2 linked regions of the Homo sapiens genome follow. The protein of the gene in region 1 interacts with the protein of each later gene in a pairwise test. Each region holds a gene or a part of one and is shown on either strand. Other genes may lie near its edges.

Region 1 (3,751 bases):
AAAATATTGTTTTTACCAATTGGTGAGCACAGGAAGGCAATCTACCACAACGCCAAGATCTTCTATCCTGAGAGTATAAAAAGAATAGCATTGCCTTAGAGAGCTGATTTCCTTATTTACTTTCATATTATGATTATTCACACCGCTTTTGAGAAATTCATTCATTTAACAATGTCAGTATCTACAATGAGTCATGTCTGTGGATACAGCAATGAACAAAGACACAGGGCTTGTATTCCAGTGTGTGAGCAACTGTGGGGGTTGGGGGGTGGGACAGAGACAGGCAATAAACAAATAACAAGACATAAGACATATAGAGCAGGTTGATATAAGTGCTATGGAGAAAAATAAAACAGGAAAGCGAGATAGGGAGTGGAGAAATAGGTATTTTAAAATAAGTTGGTCAAAGAAGGCTTCCCTAAGGTAACATCTGAGAGACTTGAATACAATGAGGAAAGTAATGCTTCAAATTCCCACTCAAAAGGGATGTTTACTTTTTATTTTTAGTAATTTTTTTTTTAAGAAACGGGTCTCATTCGGTTGCCCAGGCTGGAATGTAGTTGCATAATCACAGCTTACTGCAACCTCCAACTCCTGGGTTCAAAGTGATCTTCCCAAGTATCTGGGACCACAAGCACGTACCACTGTGCCTGGCTTATTATTTTTATTTTTTGTAGAGATGGAGTCTTGCTATGTTGCTCAGTCTCTCACTCCTGGGCTCAAGGGACTCTCTCACCTCAACCTTCCCAAATGCTGGGATTATAGGCAAGAACTGCCACACCTGGCCTCAAAAGGGATTTTTAGAAGGTTAGTTTTCCCATATCGTTATCTCTTAGTTTTATAGGTAAGAATGACAGTCAGGAAAGGTAACAGCTTTGTTCAATCTGATAAAACATTGTTTTCTGTATTTTGGTTACTCTTAGATGGGTGAGGAATGTAATTTAAGCCATACTGTCTCTACTGAAGCTACATATAGGCAGTTTAGAATAATGAAGAAGGTTCACCTGAGCTCAGGAGTTCGAGACCAGCCCGGGAAACATAAGACCTCATGTCTTCCAAAAAATTTTTTTAAAAAATAGCCAGGTGTGGTGATGTGCACCTGTACTCTCAGCTACTCAGGAGGCTGAGGTGGGAGGGCTGCTTGAACTCAGCAGGTTGAGGCTGCAGTGAGCCATGATTGTGCCACTGTACTCCAACTTGGATGACAAAGCAAGAACTTGTCTCAGAAAAAAAGTGATTGAACAAAGAGGATAAAAGGTCACACTTACCTCAACAAATAAGCTACAAGTTCACTTATACTTCTCTTTCTCCAGAAAGTTAAAGCTACATTCAATCTCATATTCCTGCTGAACAAAACTTGGGCCATTGTTTCATGGTCCTGAGAAACCTGAAAGGCAATAATCTGATTTGTTAAAAAGCACACTGAAACAGGGTATGAAACTATTTTTTTATTAAATCGTTCTGGTAGACATAGTTAAAAATCATGCAAAAGTAACTCCTTTTACTAGCCCACAAAAAGGAATACTGCAGTTGACCACAGTAAACAAATGATCTGAACAAATTTAAGACCCATTTATACTTTTCACTAGCTACCATTTTTCTTTTAAAACCCAATAATTTATAAAATTATTTTTAGCTGACCTATAAACTAGGACTTAATTTATAACATGGATAAAAGAAAAATGTAAACATGTAGGCTAGTCATTACCAACTGAATGGCAGGAGAATCACAAAAACTCAGTTTTTGACAAGTGTTGTAGTATCATTTAAATTTATCTATTTATTGTTAAGTAATGAAGTGTCATTTTCCTGTTCTAATGTGTTTAACACAGAACTATGTAAGATAAAAAGTAAAAACTCTCTGCCTGCCCACAAAAACATCCAATATCACTCCGCAGAAATAATCACAGTTAACAGACTGATATGTATCTTTCCAGACCATTTTCTAGACAAAGACAAATTAAGTACACATATAAACACTCTGAAAAATTAATTACCTATATTGTTCAAAACCTTGCTTTTTTACCTATATGAACATTTTTCAATGTCAAAACACAGATCAAGCTTTTTTTTTTTTGGAGACAGGGTCTTGCTCTGTTGCCTAGGCTGGAGTGCAGTGGTGCAATCTCAGCTCACTGCAACCTCCGCCTCCCAAGCTCAAGTAATTCTCCTGCCTCACCCTCCCCGAGTAGCTGGGATTACAGGCACCCAACACAACACCCAACTAATTTTCCTATTTTTAGTAGAGATGGGGTTTTGCCATGTTGGCCAAGCTGGTCTCCAACTCCTGACCTCACATGATCCGCCTGCCTTGGCCTCCCAAGTGCTGGGATTACAGGCATGAGCCGCCACACCAAGCCCAACTTTACTTTTAAAGAACAACAGCATAGCCTGGCATAGTGCTGTGTGCCTACAGTCCCAGCTACTTGGGAACCTGAGGTGGGAGAACCACTTGAGCTCAGGAGTTTGAGTCCAGCCTGGGAAAGACAGTGAGACAGTGAGACCTCATCTCTTAAAAACAACAACAAAAAACAATAGCATATTCTCTAGTCTTTACATACCATAATTTATTTAGATTCTGGTTTTTACCTATCAAAACTGATGAGTGGACATCCTGATATATGTAAATATGTGCACTTGTACAGACACTTTTGTTAAAATTAATTTTACAATTGGAACAGCTAGGTCAATGGTTATATGTATTTTAACTTGGCTAAGATGTTATGGTATCACTTTCAGATTTAGGTTTTTAGAGCAGGTACTGGTCAATCAAGAAAACAGGTATGAAACAAGAATAATCATTAAACCTATTAGTTAAATGTAAGGTTTAGTGAAAAGTAGTGAAAATGAGAATGTAAAGTAAAAAGAGGTTCTTGAGAAAGATGTCTCACTGGGGTAGTTTTTAAAATGCACAACTGAAACTTTTTAAAAAGAACTTTTATTCTGGCCAGGCACAGTGGCTCACACCTGTAATCCCAGCACTTTGGGCTGGGGCTGAGGCAGGTTGATCGCTTCAGCTCAGTAGTTCGAGACCAACCTGGGGAGCATGGCAAAACCCTGTCGCTATAGGAAATACAAAAATCAGCTGGGTGTGGTGGCACATGCCTGTAGTCCCAGTTACTCTGGAGACTGAGGTGGGAGGATTGCTTGAACCTGGGAGGTGAAGGTTGCAGTGAGCCAAGATTGCACCACTGCACCCCAGCCTGGGTGATAGAGCGAGAGACCCTGTTTCAAAACACAAAACAAAACAAACTTATTTTATGTTCAGGGGCACATGTGCAGGTTTGTTATATAGGTAGTTTGCATGTTGTGGGGGTTTGGTGTACAGATTATTTCATCACACAGGTAATAAGCATAGTAACTGATAAGTAGTTTTTTGATCCTAACTCTCTTCTCACCCTCTACCCTAAGGTAGGCCTCATGTCTGTTGTTCCCATCTTTGTGTCCATATGCACTAGCACAGTGTTTAGCTCCCACTCCAACTGAGAACATGAAGCATTTGGTTTTCTGTTCCTGTATTAGTTCGCTTAGGATAATGGCCTCCAGGTTCACTCGTGATTGCAAATGACATGATCTTGTTCTTTTTATGGCTGCATATAGTATTCCATGGTGTATATGCACCATATTTTCTTTATCCAGTTTACCATTGATGGGCATTTCGATTGATTCCTTGTCTTTGCTATTGTGAACAGTGCTGTGATGAACATACGCATACATGTGTCTTTATGGTAGCATGTTTTATATTCCTTTG
Region 2 (3,751 bases), on another chromosome or scaffold:
TACTCTACACACAGCTACCAGATTGCCTCTGTGTGCATATGTGTGTCTGTGCATGTGTGTGTTTCTCTCCTCACTCAGAAGTGGGGTTGGCCTGGGTTATTTTCCTATTTGCTATGCAGTCAACAAACATACTCCAAACATACTCCTCTGTTCTAGGCATTGTGCTTGGCATGGAGACCCACTGTCTGTGCTTTGGGAGCTCTCTGGCCAGTCAGGAACAAATACTTGGAAACACATGATCAGTGCTCAACATTCATTCCATAAATAGTCACTCCCTCTAAGGTGTGCCAAGCAGTGGGGCATGGGGATACAGAGGTGGTCCACAACATTATTGGGGAACTTGTGGTCCTTGTCCCAAGTTCCTTACTGTATCCTCAATTCTGTGCTCTGTCATGAACTAATACCTATATACTGAATGATATTTAAACTGTTCAACCACCTGTTTGTGTAGAAGCTGAAGGGTGGAGTATAGGCACTGACTAATCAGAAGACTAGAAACATGGAGCAAGACTTCTGAGGCCTACGCTGTACCAGGCATTAAATCCTTTAGTTGTTGGCCTGTACAGAGTTCAGAGAAATCCCTGGGAAGAGGAGTGGAAGGCTGGGGCAATGGGGTGACACCAGCAGCCCTGGTTGCATGGTAACAAAACCGAGTGAATGGAAAGAGCTGCACTGCACTAACTCCAGGCAGGTAAGGTTGCTGATAGGTTTGGTTTCAGAAAGCCTCTCCCTAGTTCTTCCTAGAGAAGCCCTTTATGGCTGCACCACACTCATCATGCCCATCTGTGCCTAATGGCTTCCACAGGGCACTTGTATTTGTTGAACACTTTCTGTGCATCTGGCAGGGAGTGGGAACTTTTAAGCGCATGAATCCTCATAATATTGCTACAGAGCAGAGATTATCACCTCTGTTTCAAAGATGAAGAAACTGAGGCATAGAGAGAGAAAGTGATTTCTCCAAGGCCACCTTCTCGGGAAGAAGAACCCCAGAATGCTCCCCTCTCCAATCATTTCTTCTAGAACCCTCAGAGCCTAGGGATAGAAAATATCTGATGTAAACTTGTTGCCTGGCTACTGTCTGTTCCTAACACTAGGTCCTTTGAGGCTCTAGGAGCTTCCAAATTCCTCAGCTTAGTCTGATCTTCTGGTTTTGCCTTCTCACACTGAGCCCAGTTGGCCTCACTTTATGGTCCCATGCCCATACCCATATCTTCTCTGTTTCATTCTTGTCTTCATACCTTTGCTATTACTCTTGGAATATTTTCTGTATTTCTCTACTCTTGTTCAGATTTAACTAGGCACTTACAAAGTGCTATTCTCTTTGCCCGATTTCCAAAGTTGAGCTGCTATGCATTTATACCTCAAGAGCCGGCATATTCACTCTCTTTTTTGAGACCAGGATCATGTGAAGTCATTTAGAGGTGTTCCACACCAAAAATAGCAGAGTAGCTAATGCCTACCCTCATCCAAACTTTTAATTTTATTTAAAAATTTTTTAAAAAATTTTTAAATTTTTATTTAAAATAAAAATTATAAACTACAGAATATGGGGAGGTCCTCCCAAGTTCTGGTTTTATATTTTTCCACTTTGACTACCTTGATGCTGTTTTTGAAATAGTCAATATTATAAAAGCCTTTAAGCCAGCTGGGTGCGGTGGCTCATGCCTGTAATCCCAGCACTTTGGGAGGCCAAGGCGGGCAGATCATTTGAGGTCAGGAGTTCGAGAACAGCCTGGCCAACATGGGAAACCCTATCTCTAATAAAAATACAAAAATTAGCCAGGCACGGTGGCGGGCACCTGTAGTCCCAGCTACTCAGGAGGCTGAGACAGGAGAATTGCTTGAACCCAGGAGGCAGAGGTTGCAGTGAGCTGAGATCACGCAACTGCACCCCAGCCTGGGTGACAGAGCGGGACTCTGTCTCAAAAATTAAAAATAAATAAATAAATAAAAGTTTTTAAGATAGTTTTTTTTCTTAGTTTGGTAGCCCTTATCTTGCTGGTAACCTCAGTGTAGTCTGCCTATTGGGTAATCCAGCTCGTTTAGACCTTCTTCCTCTAAGCTGGACTGGGTCCTATGTTCCTACAGCCCAGTTGGTTTACTGTCACCAGAGTTGTGACCAACTGTGTACTCATTGTCTTCTCCAACTAACTGGACATTCTGTCAAATCAGGGACAGCCCTTTCCTCTTTTGATTCCACGTTCAGGGCTGGGACCTGATGCATAGACTGTAAATGTCTGTTGATGGAGAAATGATGACATAAAGCTGACCTTCTAGATCTGTCTTCTTCTGGCCCAAACTAATTCATCAAACAGCAACCTAGCAACTGCAGGGTCTAGGCCCAGGGCTGGGGCTTTGTCAATGCCGTTCTTTCACTTACATCCTTCACCCCGGCCTTCAGGCTCCTTTCACCATATGCTGTTAGCCCATATTGTGCCTTTGTGATAATTTTAAAAAGCCGTACTTTCCTCAGGGTCACACAGCCCTACTTCAGCACACATCTTGGTGAGAGAAGCGAGTGTACCCTTGACCAGGGTGCCTGTACAATGAACAATCTGCACAACTGGGATATGGGTTCGAGTATATATTGTGCTACTGACTCATTCATTGTGTAGCCCAAGGTAAGACTTTGACTTGATCTGGGTCTCAGTTCCTCCATCTAAAGAGTGGGGCAGTAACAGTGCTCATTTCTTGGTACTTCAGTTGGGTAAGGCCACTCTTTAGATTTCTTAGAGTGGTGATGACCATTTGAAGCCTCTTTATACTTCTCACTTGGGGTCTCTTCTCATCATAATACATTTTCAAAGAGAGTAGGGTTCTGGGAACATTCTATATCTAAAACTCACATCTGCTCTCTCCTATCTTTAGTTGGTATGATGACAGAACATTTCTTGTTTTTTTTTATGGGTCTTCTCATATGTCAAAGCACTATAGAAGCTACCCGAGGATAGAACCCACCTCTTTTGCCCCTATTTATACCCCCTACATATACCACAGCCCAAAGGGTCCAAATACTTGTTGATTGATGAGACATGGGAGTGTTGTGAAAAGAGACATGACTAGGAGACAGAACATGTAATTAGAATCCTAGCTCTACCCCTTGTGGTGGGAGCTTGGGAAAGTAATTTCAACTCTCTAAGACTCAATTTCTTTTTCTTGAAATTTTATGACCATAAGACTTATCTCAGCCTCCTTTACAGGAGTCCTAGAGGATTAAATGTAAGAAAGAAGGTATACATGTTTGGAAACTGAAGTGTCATTCACGTGTGAAGAACACTTTTGTAATAATAATCGCAACACCCACAGGAGGGGGGCATTTGTTCCCAGGGTCCTGAACTGTTCATATTGCTCAGGAAAGCACTATTTTAGTCATCTTAGGAACACCTTACACATCAAGGAATCAGAGCTGAAAGGATCCTTGAAGAAAGATCATCAAGTTCAGTTTCCTGATATTACAGATAGAGAAGTTGAGGCCCAGCAAGGGAGGATATTTACTCTAGGTTCTACAGGATATCAAAACTGGGTGAAAGATCTAGACCTTGACTTTGGGGTGCTGGCTCTTACCTGTCCAGTTCCTCATCCAAGGGTTGGTAGTTGACCTCATAGCACTCAATTCTCTTTAGAAAGTCTTCCAGAACCTTTTCCCGGTCACAGTCTATATAATCAGGGCTGCCAAGTTTCACTTGCTGGGAGCAGGGAGAACAGAGGTATCAAGGGAGACATTGGGAGACAGATGGTTTTCTTTGGAAGT

The links. Proteins that work in one complex are often made in the same cells at the same time.
Region 2: the proteins of KATNBL1 (region 1) and PFKFB1 interact in binary tests that used the Homo sapiens proteins (3 or more experiments, as listed by UniProt).

What each region holds. Positions count from the first base shown.
Region 1 is NC_000015.10:34,147,364-34,151,114, forward strand, and holds part of KATNBL1 (KATNB1-like protein 1), read right to left. Parts: intron 1,388-3,751; coding exon 1,269-1,387; intron 68-1,268; coding exon 17-67; intron 1-16.
Region 2 is NC_000023.11:54,952,589-54,956,339, forward strand, and holds part of PFKFB1 (6-phosphofructo-2-kinase/fructose-2,6-bisphosphatase 1), read right to left. Parts: intron 3,687-3,751; coding exon 3,565-3,686; intron 1-3,564. UniProt on the Homo sapiens protein: Synthesis and degradation of fructose 2,6-bisphosphate.